Linked DNA regions of Homo sapiens. The protein of the gene in region 2 interacts with the protein of the main gene of each other region in a biochemical or structural test. Each region holds a gene or a part of one and is shown on either strand. Other genes may lie near its edges.

Region 1 (4,336 bases), on a different chromosome or scaffold from region 2:
ACCTCCTCAACCCGCTCTCCTAGGTCTGTGGTCATGTGCTAAGCACCCGATCTACACCCACAAGACAGAGCATCCTCCGATGGGTAGTGCTTAAGGTCAAGGGCTGGGAAGCCAGACCACTTCATTTTAAATCCTAGTTCAGCCACATACTCACTGAAACTTCATGAACAACCTCTGTGTTTCAGTTTTCTCATCTATAAAATGGGGATGATAACAGCACTCAGGATTAAATGAACTGATACTTAAAAACCACCCAGAACAGTGCCTGGTATATACCTAGTGCAAAACAAGTATTTGTTAAATACAACCAACCCTGGAATTTCTTCCAAATTATTCTCTCAGGTACCTTGGTGTTTATTTGTTAAAACATTTGTGGTTTCTAATTGACTAAAATCAACCAAGACTAGAATAGGCTTGCAAATGCAGGTTCTCATGCTACTGCAAGTTCACAAAGAGCCCTACAAGCGGTCTCATAATTTGGTGACTCCATCAAGCCTATGGATGTAATGATCATAGCTAAATTCAATCTCCATTTATTGCACATCTCAGAGTGTAAAGTAGAATGTAGGGTTTTAGAAAGGTGGGTGGCCGATAAGATTCAGAAGTCTCACTCATTTATTTTTGTTTACTTTAGGATGTGATATACAGCTCCCGATAGCTAGGATTAAGCTCCTAACTTGCCTGCTCTTCTGAGATAGAACTTTTTAGATAGGATTACAGTTCTAGAATTATTTGACATATTTATGGAAAAAAGCACTGTGCAATTCAGAGAAAAAGGCCAATGTGAAAAGCTCAGCAGTATCTCATATTTCCAGCTACATACCTGACAGTCATCCACATCTACTTCAAGGAATATCACGTTGGAATACTTTTCAGAGAGGGACTGGAAAATTTAAAATGAAAAATCCAAAAAGATTTAGAACTAGGTAATGGCAATCAACATACCCAAGCTTCTTAAATGGAAACTTAATAAAAGTAGAGACTAATTAAAGATCCAAAAATTTAGATCTTTGGAGACATAGATCTAAGAGACATAAATTTTCTCTAAATCAAATTTTTCTTAGTATAAAACAGCTTGGCATATCAAATTCTGAGGCTGGGATTTCAAATAAGGCCCATGTTTCAATGTGGGGAAAAAAAGAACTATTTAAGACAAAATTAACTTCTAAAATTTGTTTTCAATGGGCTACATGTATCAAACCTAAATTATTTGTTATACTACTACTTTTAGACCAAAGATCCAGCCAAAGAAATCCCCCCACCGAAACCAAAATCCTTTAACTGTCTTTCTTTCCTACCACTGTGACCACCAACTCAAAAAACACAAATCTCTTACAAAGCAGACATTGTTTAATACTCACATGAAAGAAAGGCTTGATCATTTTGCAAGGCCCACACCACGTGGCTGAGAAGTCAACTACTACAAGTTTATCACCTGCAGCGTCCAAGGCTTCCTGAAAAGCAGTCTAACAGCAAAAGAAAAGCTTATATTAAATAAATAGTTAAATATTAAACCTTCAAAAGAAAGACTCGACACAATGACACAAAGCACATTCTGGAGGTCCTCCTTTCAGGACCTACTTTTTAGCCAAAAAAAAAAAAAAAAAAAAAAAAAAATCCCCAAACAAGCCAAATAAAACTCAGTTTGAAGAAATTCTATACATTGTTGGTAGTGTTACTTGATAAGATGAAACAAGATATGTGTAGAGTATACTGACATTCTCTTCATAACTATTTTATAAAATATTGTGAACTGGCTATTTTTTCTCTACACCAAACAAAAGGAAAATAAAAATAGACATTTGTATTAAAAATGTTTCCATGTCAAGGCTAGGTATATGGTAGACATTCATTAAACACTTATGGATTATGAAAGGGGTCACTTGAAGTCACAAAGGCATAGGATTTTGCAATTGAAACATCACAAGTTACTTAAAGATAAAAGTTGGCTGGGCATGGTGGCTCACACCTGTAATCTCAGCACTTTGGGAGGCCGAGGTGGGCGGATCACTAGGTCAGGAGTTCGAGACCAGCCTGGCCAATATGGTGAAATGCTGTCTCTACTAAAAATACAGAAACTAGCTGGGCGTGGTGGCATATGCCTGTAGTCCCAGCCACTCAGGAGGCTGAGGCAGGAGAATAGCTTGAACTCAGGAGGCGGAGGTTGCAGTGAGCCAAAATTGTGCCACTGCACTCCATCCTGGGCAATAGACGGAGACTCTGTCGCAAAAAAAAAAAAAAAAAAAAAAGCTATGACTTTTGATTAAACTCATTTGTCTATGGTGGACCATACGAAAATCTAAAATTTTTTGAAAAGTCAAGGAAACTCACCTTTCCCAAACCTCAACACTCAGACATCACCGTTGACATAAGCATAATGGGGTTTCCAGAGCTGAGATCACACGTTTACCAACCTTTGATTTTTGCCCTTTATTTTAAAACTATACCCTTGTCATTCATTAAATGAAAGTTTTCGTTCCTCATGAAGGAAATTTTTCATAGATATTATTTTTCATAAGGAATGCTTGTTAAATAAAATTCTCAGTAGAAATGATCAAGAAATCTCTTACCACTAACTTCCCTGAATTATTTACTATCTAGATACTGTAACCCTGGGAACCGAATATTCTAGTTACCAAGGACTCATTTTTGTTTTGTTTTGTTTTTGAGACGGAGTTTCACTTGTTGCCCAGGCTGGAGTGCAAAGGCCTGATCTCGGCTCACAGTAACCTTTGCCTCCGGGGTTCAAGTGATTCTCTTGCCTCAGCCTCCTGAGTAGCTGGGATTACAAGCCTCTGCCACCAGTCCCAGCTAATTTTTGTATTTTTAGTAGAGACAGAGTTTCGCCATGTTGACCAGGCTGGTCTTGAACTCCTGACCTGAAGTGATCCACCCGCCTTGGCCTCCCAAAACAAAGGACTCATTTTAACCACATTAGTACGTTAGTGCTGACCAAACCCAAAAACCAAACCAGAGCAATTAAGATAAATCAAAACATAAACATCTGTATCTGAAATCTAGGTTTTCTTCAAGGAAACAATGCTGGTCAAATAGGTTTAAAAAAAAATGAACATTCCCCGCCCCCCACCGCCACAAGAGGTCTCGTAAAGAAAGAAATCAAATAAATAAAAAACCATAAGATAAAAAACCAAATAAACAAAAAAAAACCCAACAAGAAAACACTAATATGACCTCATGTACTAATAGTTACTTCTCTAGATTTCTAATTTCTACCTCGTTTTTGGGAAAATAATTCACAAATGGTGTTCCTGAGAAAGGTAGGACAACACTTTCATAAATTTTTTAGTTATGCAAATCCCTGAACCCCACCTCTAGAGGTGGAGACATGGGGAGAGCTGCAGCAGGGTACATAGAAGTATAGCAATTGTTTTTCCAAATCATCACTTATTGTTCCAGATCAATTTCATTCAAAGCCTTCCCTAATGTGATTTTCAAGAAAGTTAAACCAGGCATCCTTTATTGCAAGATCCAGGTAAGACAGGAAAAAAGGTCAAGAAATGCCAATGTCTGGTTGAATAGACATTTTTGTTTTTTTAACATGATTAACCCTTATTAAAAACTTGAGATTACTTTCAAGAGGGAAGGTATTTCAAACATACTCAAGGCTTTTCCAAAACAGTTCTGAATCAAATTTAAGCACAAGTACCTAAAATTCTGAAAAGAGGCACGCAACAATAACTTTTAGCCTAACTGAACATGAGTTACACCCCACGTATGTGCAGGCTTCATGTACAAATTCTCTTCTGATACTTCTAAACGGGTATCAGCTTGAAAATTATTCAAGATTGTATTACTAAGAAGAAATCACAATTTCTAGCTCCCAGAAACTAACAGGATTAATAAATGTCTCCATCACTGACACCAATAATCTGGGGGAAGCAGAACAGTGTAGTTGGGGTAAATAGGAGCAAGAGTCTAAGATCTCGTTGCCTCAACATACCTACTCTGAGGGTAATAAGTGTGAGTGGTTTCTGAAGTACTTAGCCAAGTGCCTTGTAGATGGGAGTTCAATAAATGGTAGGTGTCATTTTTTTTAAAAGTGTTTATTTCTTCCTCATCACATTTACAGTCAATTATTCCATTCCTCTCTGAAATAGATCCCAGTTGGCCCTAAAGCACCAACAGAGTACCTCAGAAACAGAATTGTTCTGAATGGCAAATGGTGCAAATTTAGCCCATTAGGATGAAAATGTAACATGTATTCAACATTTACAAATAACAGGCTGGGCGTGGTGGTTCACGCCTGTAATCCTAGCACTTTGGGAGCCTGAGGTTGGTGGATCACCTGAAGTCAGGAGTTCGAGACAAACCTGAC
Region 2 (5,785 bases):
TCTCCAACACTCCACTTCCATAGTCCAGGTTTAGGTTCCTATAATTCCCTTCCCCTCACCCTAGACCACTGCAAAAGCCTTCAAACATTTATAAGCCAGCTTCCATGTTGATGCCATTATGTCCCTAAAAAGCAATTTATGTGTTGTTACTCTGCTTAAAAACATTCATGGTTCCCAGTTTCCATAGGTTCCCCTATCTGTCCCAGTTTTCCCATCATTTCTCACTTAGAACACCATGCTTCAGTCTCAAGGAGGCACTTACCCTTCCCCAAAAACATTCTGGATTTCTTTTTTGAGACAGGGTCTCACTCTGTGTCACCCAAGCTGGAGTGAAGTGGTGCAATCACAGCTCACTGCAGCCTCAACCTCCTGGACTCGAATGATGCTCCCACCTCAGTCTCCCCAGTAGCTGGGACCACAGGAGCGTGCCATCACACCCAGCTAATTTTTTAATTTTTTGTAAAGACAGGGGTCTCACTATGTTGCTCAAGCTGGTCTTGAACTCCTGGCCTCAAGTGAACCTCCCACCTCGGCCTCCCAAAGTGCTGGAATTATAGGCGTGAGCCACCATACAAAGCCAGGATTTTTTTAAAAAACACCTGCAAGCATTTGCAGTTAATGTCTCCCATGCATTAATGCTCTTACCTCCAACTTCTCCTTTACTCACTATTCCTTTACTCACTATTCAGATCAAATGTCACCTCCTTGGTGAAGCATTGCCTGACTTCATCATGAAATGCCAGTGTTTTCTGTTCTTCTAGTACTTGGCTAATACCTTAATTGTAGCATTGTTTTGTATCCTAACTATCTATTTGCTTTTGCCTCCCGAAATACATTGTGAATTCCTTGAAGACAAGGAAGGTGTTTATTCAACTTTCCATCTCTAACGTGGTATTGTAATTGGTCTATATAACCCCGTGACTCCTTTGTTAAAAAAAAACATTTGCAAGGTCAGTTTTATCACGCAGATTATCATCTGCTTTTTTGCAGATGCAGAGGAAGAGAAAAGAGTTCCTCCTTATTTCGCAGAGATTTCTTTCACTGCCTTTAGAAAGACCTAATTTGAGCACCAGAATTTAACTAGCTTAAAACTTACACAGAGGAGGCCGGGTGCAGTGGCTCACGCCTGTAATCCCAGCACTTTGGGAGGCCAAGGCAGGCAGATCACGAGGTCAGGAAGTCGAGACCATCCTGGCTAACACGGTGAAACCCTGTCTCTACTAAAAAGACAAAAAATTAGCTGGGCGTGGTGGCGGGCGCCTGTAGTCCCAGCTACTCGGGAGGCTGAGGCAGGAGAATGGCCTGTGAACCCGGGAGACGGAGCTTGCAGTGAGCAGAGATTGCACCACCGCACTCCAGTCTGGGCAACAAAGCGAGACTCCGTTTCAAAAAAAAAAAAAAAACTTACACGGAGGAAGGAATAAGACAGAATAAACAATAATAAATCTAAAAGGAATGAAAGTCAATTTAATTTTATCTTTAGAATGAGAATGACTGTCTCACTGAGGACCAAATGAAATAATGTGTGTGAAATGCTTTGTCAGTTTTGAAGAGAGATAATACAGTGACTAGACTTCCCTAACAAACCATCAGGATGCATCCTAACTCTTCTCCAACTACGGCATTTGCAGTTCACCATAACTACTCCTGGTGGTCCCTCAGCAGAAACCAGCTGGCCACAGAGTATGGGAATGGAGGCTAGAACTTGCGAGCTGAGAAGACACAAGTTGGAGTTCCAGCAATACCACAGTCTAAGTCTGTGATCTTGAAGAAGCTATATCAGCTTCTTGGATATCAGTTCCCTCCATCTCTAAAATAATGACATTAAACCTAGATGAACAAATTCTGCAATTCTGTAACTGCTCACTGAAAAGCTGAGACTACTCTAGCCAACTTTCATATTTCAAGGACTTCACCTTTTAAATTCCTGCAGAAATGGAACCAACTCAAGAACTTTAGTCAGCATGGCGGGTCCCTTGTGAAAAATAATATCAGCACTTAGCAATGCAGTGCAATTTGAGAGTCACTGGAAAAATCTTTAGTCCTCAAATTTCTCCTTCCATGAGAAGTTACTTTTTAAGTTAATATTTATTTTGTCTAACTTCCCCCTTTTAAAATGCAGATACCTTGTGAAAGGATAGTATTTTTCTCCAGTCTCGGGCTGAGTGTCTTCTTCCTTATACCTGGGCTCTCAATTATATCACTTACAAACTCCAGAAAGAACTGGCTCCCACACTTTCCCCACCCTTCCTAGAATCTCTTTTTTTTTTCTTTTTTTTTTTTTTTTGAGGTGGAGTTTCACTCTTGTTGCCCAGACTAGAGTGCAATGGCACGATCTCAGCTCACCCCAACCTCTGCCTCCCTGGTTCAAATGATCCTCCTGCCTCAGCCTCCCAAGTAGCTGGGATTACAGACATGTGCCACCATGCCTGGCTAATTTTGTAATTTTAGTAGAGACAGGGGTTCTCCATGTTGGTCAGGCTGGTCTCGAACTCCCGACCTCAGGTGATCCGCCAGCCTCGGCCTCCCAAAGTGCTGGGATTACAGGAGTGAGCCACCGTACCTGGCCAAATCTCTTTATTTTTCTATCAGCCCCTTTATTCTGTGCTCATACTACATTCAAACATATCTCTAAGCTTAATGCCAACCTTCTTTGATGCTTCTGCCTCTTCTGTAGTCTACTTTTTATTCTTTTGGTGTTACCATATTTAGAGATAGAATAGGAATCAGCAAAGAGACAAGTGGTTGAAGAATTAAAATGAGGACCAGAATGGTACTGTATCCTGGCCAACCAAGGAAGAAGAGAATTTCAAGAAGGAAGGGTTATCAGCATCGTCAAATTCAGAAAGTAAAGAAGATGAGGACGACTAAGACTGCTAGCTTCAGAAACCAACTGGAGGCTGGCCAGTGTCCTCCTTATTACCAAATCTAAACATCTTTGCTGTCAGTGGTGGAGGAGATTTGGAGTGGTTAATCAAATCTCAAAATAGAAATGGCCCCAGTTTTCAGAATGTAGACTAAGAAAAGCAAGCTTCCTGTGAACCCTTTGAAAAGTCTGATTGACCCCTTGCCTCAACTCTGATGTGGGAAGGTGGTGAAAGATCAACAAACCAACACATCTGTCTTTTAGATACAGTAACAAGAGCAACACCTTACACCTCTTCTTCTTTAGCTTATTTTATTAGAATGCAATATTATTCCTCCATTTATAATTTTTAAAACTTGAGGTTCAGATAGGGTTTAAAGTACGTCTCAAGTCTTACATCCCCCTAATACAGTGCTCCTGAAAAGATTTCTGCTGAAAACACCTCCAAGCTTTTGTCTCTGTTTTATCCTTCTAATCCTGCACTCCTTAAAGGGCCAAACCACCAGCCTTTCCTCCAAGCTTCCCCAAGGGTTTAGTAGTCCACCGACCTTTGGTAGTTGAGGAAGAGCAGAAGACTCTATGATGATATCTGGGATAGTTTCTCAAAGAAGAAAACTGCCTTGATCTATGTAGTCCTGGTTCCTCCCCAGATCAGAGTTTATCATAATACCCTGAAGTTGACTGGTAATTGCTCCACCAAAGAGTCCCTGAATTTCAGCCATGTGGTTGGCTGGTCAAGGACGGTTGATGGAAATAGATGGGCAGAAACTTTTGACGGGCCCAATGAATGATTAACAGCAGAAATAAAGCAGCACTGTTTACCTAAGCTCCTTCCTCTTTGCTAGTCCTCATTCTTCGTAACATGTCGCAATCGTTTATTTTCTCCTCTGCCAACCATTTCCCCTAAGTGGAAAGGTAATTTGAATTTGAAGCCAGAATTCTTTTTTCTTTTCATAAACACATAAGGGTTATGGCAAGACACAGTCCAGCTAGCCTGGAAACCTTGGATACTGCGAGGTTCAGAGAGCCTCCGCAAAAATGATCCACTTTCCATGACACTAGGTCCAGTATGCTTTCCTGGAGTTTGAAAACTGATATTCTTGCCCAGAGCTCGTCTCTATCCCACCCCAAGGAATTACAAAAGGTGGGGAATTTATCAAACATGCATTGGGTTTCCACTATGTGCTGAGTTATCTAGAACGTATTTGGAGTTCAGCAAATGTTAACTGCTACTACATGTCAGGCACCAGAGGGCCTCCAAAAATTGATCTATCCAGTGCGCTCAGAAGAACGCAATGAAGGACCGGCCATGTTTCCTCTCGCATAGATCTAAAAAGACCACAAGCACTTACATAGTCCAATTAAGCTACTAATCCTCAAGGTTAAGATTTGTGTGCTCAGAAGATTGCTATTAAAAGGCAATTCTTTCTGAGAACTTCACTTTTTCTGTAATAAATACTGAAAGTCCCAGAAGAGTTTCAGAAAAGGAACTAAACTACAACAGGTTGAGTTAATCAAGGAAGTTTCTACAGAAGATGTGAGATTTGGATAAAAGGTAGAAATTATTAGATAAAAGTGGTAAGGATATTAGATGTAAAGAAACCATGCGCTAGGTCACCAAGGTGAGACACTGATTTGACCAGAATGAAGATAGAGGAGGATTCCAGATTGCACAGTCTTGAGACTAAATTGGAAGAAATATCACCTTTAAAGCTGCTATTTCTTTAAAGTACCGTTTTCCAATGTATTGAAGTCCTTTCGTTTACTTTCCACAGTGACTCTTGCAGATTTTTCTCTCCAGGTCACCAAATTGTCACATTCCCTCTCAGCAGATGCTCTTACCTCCTACTTTACTAAAAATCATTCTACCTTAGCTTCATCAATGTCAAATTTTCCCTCCTATTCACTCCTCATTCCGAGGAGAATTGTTTCTTCTTTTCCTGCCTCATTTTCAATGCATCTCTCATCCTGAAATGTCCCTTCAATTTTGCCAATACCTCAAATTCCACCTTTCTTCTTTAGTGTGATGCTGAACTTCTCAAAGGTGTGACTTGTTCTACCTGCCTGTTCTTTCTCATTCATCACTCCACCTGTTGCTTTCCCATCTGGCTTCTACCACTCTTCTACTGACATGTCTCTCTGAGGCACGCCCTTAGGTCCAAGTCCAAAATATCTTTAATTCATTTCTTAGGATCTGTCTGCAGCCTTTGTCACTGCTGATCATTTCCTTTCTGAAACTCTCTTCTCCTTTGGCTTCCATGACACTAAACTTACCTGATTCCCTTAACTTAACTAATTTCTCTTTCTTAGTTACTGTTACCTTCTCTTCCTCCTTCTCATTCCTAAATATAGATATATCTCAGGCTCTTCTTTTTTTAAAAAAATTATCTTCGCAATTTTAATGATCTTGCCTTCTGTCACAGCTTTAACTATTACCAGTAAGAAGACTAGCCAGCACTACATTATTATTTCTGATTACTCTCCGAAACTCAAGACTTACTTTCTTAGGTTTTGTTTTTTTTTTCCCCCCACTGGACATCTTGCAAGCACTTCACCCTCAGCACATCCAAAGAGGAATTTCTCATTTCCGGCCAACAAGCTTCACTTTCTGACCCCAGCTTTTTCTGACCTCTGGTTCTCGGGAATAAAATTTCAGATTCACTTTTGAACTCTTCCTCTCCCTCACCCTTCAATGTTTGATTAGTTGACAGGTTGTTTTGATACAAGTTTTCAATATCTCTCGTGTCTGCTGCTGCTTTTTCATTTCTGCTGCCACCAAACCAGTTCAGGTTGATAATGCCTCCCATATGGACTATTGTAGGAGTCCTTTCGTTGGTTTCTCTTAGTTCTTTTCCCTCATCAACCAATACTACAACCAACATTGTGAGAGAAATCTTTCTTTATGTTCTGTCCTTATTA

Evidence for each region. The genes of interacting proteins can lie anywhere in the genome.
Region 1: the proteins of C4BPA (region 2) and TXN form a complex in vitro, tested with the Homo sapiens proteins (one study listed by BioGRID).

What each region holds. Positions count from the first base shown.
Region 1 is NC_000009.12:110,249,997-110,254,332, forward strand, and holds part of TXN (thioredoxin), read right to left. Parts: intron 1,467-4,336; coding exon 1,362-1,466; intron 884-1,361; coding exon 824-883; intron 1-823. UniProt on the Homo sapiens protein: Participates in various redox reactions through the reversible oxidation of its active center dithiol to a disulfide and catalyzes dithiol-disulfide exchange reactions.
Region 2 is NC_000001.11:207,102,060-207,107,844, reverse strand, and holds the start of C4BPA (C4b-binding protein alpha chain precursor), read right to left. Parts: upstream 3,613-5,785; 5' UTR 3,415-3,612; intron 1-3,414. UniProt on the Homo sapiens protein: Controls the classical pathway of complement activation. It binds as a cofactor to C3b/C4b inactivator (C3bINA), which then hydrolyzes the complement fragment C4b.